Linked DNA regions of Homo sapiens. The protein of the gene in region 1 purifies or fractionates together with the protein of each later gene. This does not show direct contact. Each region holds a gene or a part of one and is shown on either strand. Other genes may lie near its edges. The genes, in order: XRN1 and UPF1.

What was found.
Region 2: the proteins of XRN1 (region 1) and UPF1 purify together in Homo sapiens (affinity purification with western blotting; 4 studies listed by BioGRID and IntAct, with this or other methods). This does not show direct contact.

Annotation. Positions count from the first base shown.
Region 1 is NC_000003.12:142,329,173-142,333,092, reverse strand, and holds part of XRN1 (5'-3' exoribonuclease 1), read left to right. Parts: intron 1-3; coding exon 4-126; intron 127-558; coding exon 559-718; intron 719-3,455; coding exon of another isoform or gene 3,456-3,477; coding exon 3,478-3,659; intron 3,660-3,920. UniProt on the Homo sapiens protein: Major 5'-3' exoribonuclease involved in mRNA decay. Required for the 5'-3'-processing of the G4 tetraplex-containing DNA and RNA substrates. The kinetic of hydrolysis is faster for G4 RNA tetraplex than for G4 DNA tetraplex and monomeric RNA tetraplex.
Region 2 is NC_000019.10:18,834,879-18,838,798, reverse strand, and holds part of UPF1 (regulator of nonsense transcripts 1), read right to left. Parts: intron 1-3,920. UniProt on the Homo sapiens protein: RNA-dependent helicase required for nonsense-mediated decay (NMD) of aberrant mRNAs containing premature stop codons and modulates the expression level of normal mRNAs.

The DNA.
Region 1 (3,920 bases):
TAGCCTAACTCTGGAATTGAGAACTTTTTAGCATCTTTGAATATCTCCAAAGAAAATGAAGTACAGTCATCTCATCATGGGGAGCCTCCAAGTGAAGAGCATTTGTCACCACAGTCATTTGCCATGGTTCGTATTTTGTAGGAACTTTCTTACTGTGGTAATTTCTCGACTGTTGACCATGCAGACATATCCCATGCAAGTGTTCAAACACTTCCATCATGGAGGCTGGTATGTTACATCATTATTGTCATCTTGTGAGGAAACCAGGCTGCCCTGGGCAATTTAGCCATACTTTTTCTCTTTAGACCACAGTTCCCCTGCTTTTCAAACATTGCTACTAGGTAACTGGGATGAAAGTTAAGCAGGAGGATAAGTATCGTTTCTGTATCAGAAATGTGGGTGTTGGGTTTTTTTTTTTCAGTTTCTATCTGAATGTAGTTAATGTCTTAATTGTTAACAATGGAATTCTTTCCAAGAAAGATCAATAAGTTCTACAGATGTAATGTTGACTTTGTTCTCTTCACCCTCACCATCTCCATGTGAATCATTTTCAAAAAGAAGGGAACACGGATGCTTAAAGAAATTCTAAAAATTGATGGCTCTAACACTGTGGACCATAAGAATGAAATCAAACAGATTGCTAATGAAATCCCTGTTTCCTCTAACAGAAGAGATGAATATGGATTACCCTCTCAGCCTAAACAAAATAAGAAATTAGGTAAGTAAACTAAATACTATTACCAATAATATCATTTTAAAAATTCAATTCATTTGGTTCTTTTTAATCATGTACTTTTAAAGATAAAACTGCTTTTATTTTAATGTATTTATTTATTTTAGAGATGGTGTCTTGCTGTGTTGGCCAGGCTGGTCTCAAACTTCTGACCTCAAGCAATCCTCTCACTTCAGCCTCCCAAAGTGCTGGGATTACAGGTATATGCCACCACACCTGGCCCAAAACTACTTTTATTCTTAAAACTATAATTTTTATATTTGTTTCAGTTATATAATAATATAACTGGCCAGGTGTGGCTCATGCCTGTAATCTCAGAACTTTGGGAAGCTGAGGCAGGCGGATCTCTTAAGCTCAGGAGTTCAAGACCAGCCTGGGCAACATGGCGGAAACTCTGTCTCTCTAAAAAATACAAAAGTTAGCTAGGTGTGGTGGCGTGTGCCTGTAGTCCCAGCTACTGGGGAGGCTGACGTGGTAGGATTGCTTGAGCCTTGGAGGCAGAGGTTGCAGTGAGCCAAGATCACGCCACTGCACTCTAACCTGGGCAACAGAGATAGACCCTGTCTCAAAAAACAAAAAGAACAATAATAATACAACCATGTAACCAATAGATCTACAGTCACTAAATGTCTTCTTGTGATTACTTAATTGTAGTGTTATAGATAATCATTCTGTAGACATCCAAACCTTTAAAAGTTTGCACATTCTAGCTTTTGTCCTCAGTAATTTAAAAATTATCATGTAACTTAAATACATTATTTAACTTTTCTGAAATCTTGTTTCTTATTTATAAAATAAGAATAATACATTACAGATTACTTGTGGTAATTATATAACATGTATAAATATAAAACAGCACTATGTCCAACACATTGTAGGTGCTAATAATTGATATTAATATTATGTTAAAATAACCTAACTGTTGTAAAAATAGAAAAATCTACAAAATCAATTAAAAATCATTAATAGAGTTAGATATAGGAAAGTGAGTCATACTCTTAAGTCTGTAAAGCCTATAGCATAACATCTGGCACATAACTGGATTTCAGTAAATATCCGCCATATTTGTTCCTACCCTGAATGTCCTCTATACTTTAGCATTTTATCTGTATAATGATCTACTAAAGGCAGCCAGGAAGAATGACTGATACAAAAGTGGATGTGGGCAGAAGTTTCTCAGAGAAGTCAAAAACATTTTGGAATAAGCAGATCTAAGCGTATTAAAGATCAAAACCTGGAATTGGCTGGGCACGTTGGCCCACATCTGTAATGCCAGCACTTTGGGAGGCCAAGGCGGGTGGATCACCTGAGGTCAGGAGTTTGAGACCAGCCTGGCCAACATGGTGAAACCCCCTTTCTACTAAAAATACAAAAAATTAGCCGGGTGTGGTGGCAGGCGCCACCAAGTAGCTGTAATCCCAGCTACTTCAGAGGCTGAATCAGGAGAATCGCTTGAACCCGGGAGGTGGAGGTTGCAGTGAGCCAAGATCACGCCATCACACTCGAGCCTGGGCAACAAGAGCGAAACTCTGTCAAAACAAAAACAAAACCTGGAATAAAAGCAGAACCTAACCCCATTTATATTCCAGTGATAATTAATTAAAAATTCCAAAAAATATTAGGAACCTGATTATTTATTATAGTGACAGACATGGTCCTGAAATAGAACCAAATTAATTTTAAGACAAAATTAGATAAAGATGGTCCCATTGTCAAAAACAAGTAAGTTTTACTTTATTTCAGTATAGGAAAAAAAAAAAAAAAAACTCATAGGCTTTAGAGTCTTAGGGTCACTAGCTCAGAATCCAGCCCCTGTTATAGAACTAACTGGCTCTGTGACTTTGAGCAAGCCACTTAACTGCTTTTTTAATCTATATTAGTAAGAAGTTTGGATTAATTCTTCAATGAGGTATGCTTTTGTTCTATTAGTGAGTTTGTTAATCATAAAGAATGTGAACACTCAGAATTTTAAAATCATCTTCCATATAAAAACACTTAGAAGACAATTTCAAAAAAAACTTTTAAGAAATATTATTTCAGAGCCACAAAAATATTCATCCATGTGTCTCAGAATGTAAGGTGGAATTGCAAGAATTGAGGTGGAAGCCAAAACTTCAAAACTTAAGGATGAATTATATTTCAGCTCAAGAAAGCCATTTGTTTATTCATTCTTTTATTTTTCTCTTCTTACTTCTGCAAAACAAGAAAGCCATTTGTTTGTTCAAATTTTACCTGTAGCAGTACCATGTAGTCATTAGCTGCTCAAGGTTTTAATTTTTGGCAGTTAGGTACTTATATTTTAAAATCTTTATCTTAATAATTTATCATTAATCAATTATACTCATCCAAAAACCTTTACTGAAGTCACAATAATTTTAGGAAGTACTAAATAGTTGTTTATATGTGCTTCATGGAAGACTCATCTTTTTAATGCAGTTGGTGGCTCTATAGCGTCTAACTGAATTTTTCAAGGTTTTCGACCAAATTTATAAGGTGCGTGGCCAGAGGACCACTGAAGGTAAGCTGACAGTCACTTGGATGGCAGGTTGTACTGCTAGAGTCCAGGATTTGGAACTAGAGCCACCTGAAATCCTGATTCTGTTATTTAATAATGGGTGGCCTTGAGCAATTCACTTCACTTTTTAGCAGTTTCCTGCTTGCTCTTCTATAAAACCCTACAATAAGTGCATAATTTGAGATAGTATTTTATTAATAAAGATAGACTCTTTTCTCTTTTTTGGTAGCATCTTATATGAACAAGCCTCACAGTGCTAATGAGTACCATAATGTTCAGTCTATGGACAATATGTGTTGGCCTGCCCCCAGCCAGATCCCTCCTGTATCCACACCAGTAACTGAACTTTCTCGAATTTGTTCCCTTGTTGGAATGCCACAACCTGATTTCTCCTTTCTTAGGATGCCACAGGTATAGTATACTACTGTTCTATTTATATAAATTATTTAACATTAAGCTTAAATAAATTGGTTGAAAATGTTTAGCTAGAAAAAATAAAATGGGGCCTATTTTTCTTAACTTTATGAGCAGCATAGATTTATGCTTCTTACCCTAGCTCTAATATTTATACATAACCAAAGCCCTAAGAGAAGCTGACAGGGAGGAACTGGGCAGCAGGTATCCTGGCAAGATTCCTCAAACTAATAGAGCCAGGGATCTTGGCCTACAGTA
Region 2 (3,920 bases), on another chromosome or scaffold:
CTACTAAGGGGTAAGTGCTGACCAAACACTTGCCAACACTCCTCCAGGTAAACGGCATCTTATCTCCAATGTTCTGGCACCCTAAAACCACACCTGGGCTACCAGAGGATTCAAAAAGCCAAAATGAAGTCATGAGCATTTTTTTTTTTTAAGATGGAGTTTTGCTCTTGTTGCCCAGGCTGGAGTGCAATGGCACAATCTCAGCTCACCGCAACCTCCACCTCCCGGGTTCAAGCGATTCTCCTGCCTCAGCCTCCCAAGTAACTGGGATTACAGGCATGTGCCACTATACCCAGCTAATTTTGTATTTTTAGTAGAGACAGGATTTCTCCATGTTGGTCAAGCTGGTCTGGAACTCCTGACCTCCGGTGATTCACCTGCCTCTGCCTCTCAAAGTGCTGAGATTACAGGCGTGAGCCACCAAGCCCGGCCTGGATTTTCTTCTTTTTATTAAGACAAGGTCTCACTCTGTCACCCAGGCTGGAGTGCAGTGGTGCGATCATGGACATTTTGCCCAGGCTGGTCTCAAACTCCTGAGCTCAAATGATCTGCCTGCCTCAGCCTCCCAAAGTACTGGGATTACAGGCATGGGCCATCGTGCCCAGCTACATGTGCAGATTTTAAACTCACCACTTTTCGGAACCCAAGACTGTATGGAACTCACCCCGCCTTGGTCATAATCTCAGGGCTCAGCAGAAGATGGTGTGTTCACCTGGACAGTCAAGGATAGGTCAGGACAATGGCTTTGAAGACAAAGTAGCAACTTTCTATCCTGAGTATTTTACCACTTCAAAAGGAAAAGTGAGCCCAGGTTTACACACTCAGAGAAGTGGAGGCAATACAGAGAAGTCTGGCAGGAGGAGAGTGAGGGCTGGACGACAGGTCGGCTAGGAGCTTTAGCTAGTTGTCCCTTACGATCCAGAAAGACAGCATGTTTTTCCTAGGGAAACAACTCATGCACTCAGAGTAAAATCCCAGTACGAGATGACTATTCAGCTGTGACTCCCACAGGCTACCAGGAGTGGAGACGGAACAGGCAGTGCAGACCTGACCTGAGGATGAAGGAACAAAGTGGGACCAGTACCAAGCAGCATCTATCTACAAGGTCACCCAGAGCACCTGCACAAAAACATGCGTGTTGCTGCCTAAAAGGTCTGTACCTACCCACAGACCTCATACTTTCAGGTGAGCTAAGAAAAGCAACTCAAACCAATAGGCACACATTTTTCCCACTGGATGTACACACTGCTTTGTTTACCCATTCATCTGCTGATGGCCACTGGGGCTGCTTCCGGTTTGGGGTTCTCATGAAGAGATGCTGTCAGCATTTGGCGCAGCCCTGCGTACACACACCTTCATCTCTGCTAGGTCACAGGTAGGTGTATGGCATGAGAGTTCCAGGCAGCACTTTTGCCAGGCTCAATGGCTCACTCTGTAATTCCAACACTTGGGAGGCCTGAGGTGAGAGGATCTCTTGAGCCCAGGAGTTCAAGACCAGCCTGGGTAACATGGCAAAACCCCATCTCTACAAAAAAAGAAAAATCAGCCAGACGTGGTGGCACACACCTGTAGTCCCAGCTACTTGGGAGGCTGAGGTGGAAGGATCGCTTGAGCCCAGGAGGTCGAGGCTGCAGTGACCCATGATAACGCCACTGCACTACAGCCTGGGTGACAGAATGAGACTTTGCCTTAAAACAAAAACAAAAAACCCAAGTAGCACTTTCAGCCTTTTAAAAAAAGTATGGCAGGCTGGGCGCAGTGGCTCACGGCTGTAATCCCAGCACTTTAGGAGGTAGAGGAGGGCGGAACACGAGGTCAGGAGATCAAGACCATCCTGACTAACATGGTGAAACCCTGCCTCTATAAAAATACAAAAAATTAGCCGGGCATGGTAGCACACACCTGTAGTCCCAGCTACTCGAGAGGCTAGGGCAGGAGAATCGCTTGAACCCAGGAGGTGGAGGTTGCAGTGAGCCAAGATTGTGCCACTGCACTCCAGCCTAGGCAACAGAGCGAGACTCCGTCTCCAAAAAAAAAAAAAAAAAAAAATGGGTGGATAGTGGTATCTCCCTGACTTTTCTTTCCAGTTTCATTGAGGCATAACTGACATACCATAAGCTGCAAATGTTTAGTGTGCCATTTTAGAAACTGACATACATCAATGTACTTAAACACCCATAAAACTATCACTACAATCACGATAATAAAAACGTCCATTACCCCCAAGTTTCCTGTGCCCTTTGTCACCTGCCTCCCCTTTCCCACCTTTCTGTCCAGCCACCACTGGTCTGCTTTCTATTGCTGCAGGCTAGCTGGCAATTTCTAGAATTTTTTTATGAATTAAATCATATGATGAATGACACATACAAAAAAGTAATTATTATGAGACACATCCATGTTGTTGCAGGTATCAATAGTTTGTTCCTTCTTAATACTGAGCAGTATTTCCAACTCTTAAGAGTTTCACTCTAGTTCCCGTTTGGAGGATCCAGGGCAGAAGCTACAGTCAAGAGGAAATATTCCAACCAGGCAGACCAAAAGGCTTGTAACACCAGCTATTATGCAAAGGACTTCTGAAATTACCTTCACTGTCCTGGGAGCAGGAGAAGTGGCAGCAGAGAAGGGCCCAGGAAAAGGTCAGATGCTCGAAAACTGTCCCTGTATCTTAAGGACACTTGGCAATACTGTGTCAGCGCTTTTCATCCCAGGATCTCAAGGGCTTTGATAAATATCAGTTTCATTTCATAAACAAGAAAAGGAGTGTTATCTGAACCAGCTCTGAGTGCAGGGAGTCACCCCTGCTGCCACTTTCCCATCCCGGTGGGGACACACTGTCTTTCAACACACATTAAGGGAAAACCAACTGCGCAAAACCAGTTCAGGTAGGGTTGGTATGGAAAGTGGCTACACACTGGAAAACAGTCTTGCAGTTACTGAAACCATTAAACCCAAGGTTACTACGCGGCCCAGCAGGTCTATAAACACATCCACGCAGAAACCTGTACACTCATGGCCACAGCAGTGCTATTCACAAAAGCCAAGAGGTGGAAACAACCCAAATGTCCATCAACAGATGACGAGATAAACAAAACATGGTCCATCCATCTGGACCATTCCACCCATGGAATATTACTCAGCCTTAAAAAGGAATGAAATGCTGGCCAGGTGCGGTGGCTCATGCTTGTAATCCCAGCACTTTGGGAGGCCGAGGCAAGTGGACCACATGGTCAGGAAATCAAGACCATCTGGCCAACATGGTGAAACCCCGTCTCTACTAAAAATACAAAAATTAGCCGGGGCATGGTGGTGTGCACCTGTAATCCCAGCTACTGGGGAGGCTGAGGCAGGAGAATCGCTTGAACCTGGGAGGCACAGGTTGCAGTGAGCCAAGATCACGCCACTGCACCCCAGCCTGGGCAACAGAGCGAGACTCTGTCTCAAAAAAAAAAAAGGAATGAAATGATGACACATACCACAGCGTGGATGAACCTCGATCAGGTTCATTTTCCTGAATGCTCGGCCAGGGAACAGCTACGAAGCTCACCTTGTAGCTACTTCTCACACATCACGCAGAGTGAAAGGAGCCAGACACAAAACACCATATATGATATGATTCCGTTGATGTGAAATGCCCAGAACAGGCACATCTTGAGACAGAAAGCAGGTGAGTGGTTGCCAGGGGCTGTGGAGGTAGGACGGATGGGCTAAGGGGTGCAGGGTTTATCTCTGGGGTGACAAAAATGTTCTAAAGTTTACTGTGGTAATGGCTGCACAACTCTGAATATACTAAATAAAAGCCGCCGAACTGTACACTTTATATGGGTAAATTGTATGTTGTGGCAAGTGAATTCTATTTCAATAAAGCCGCTAAGCAAAAGTGACTGCAGGGCACTTGACAGCTGATAGCCACTTCCCCAGTA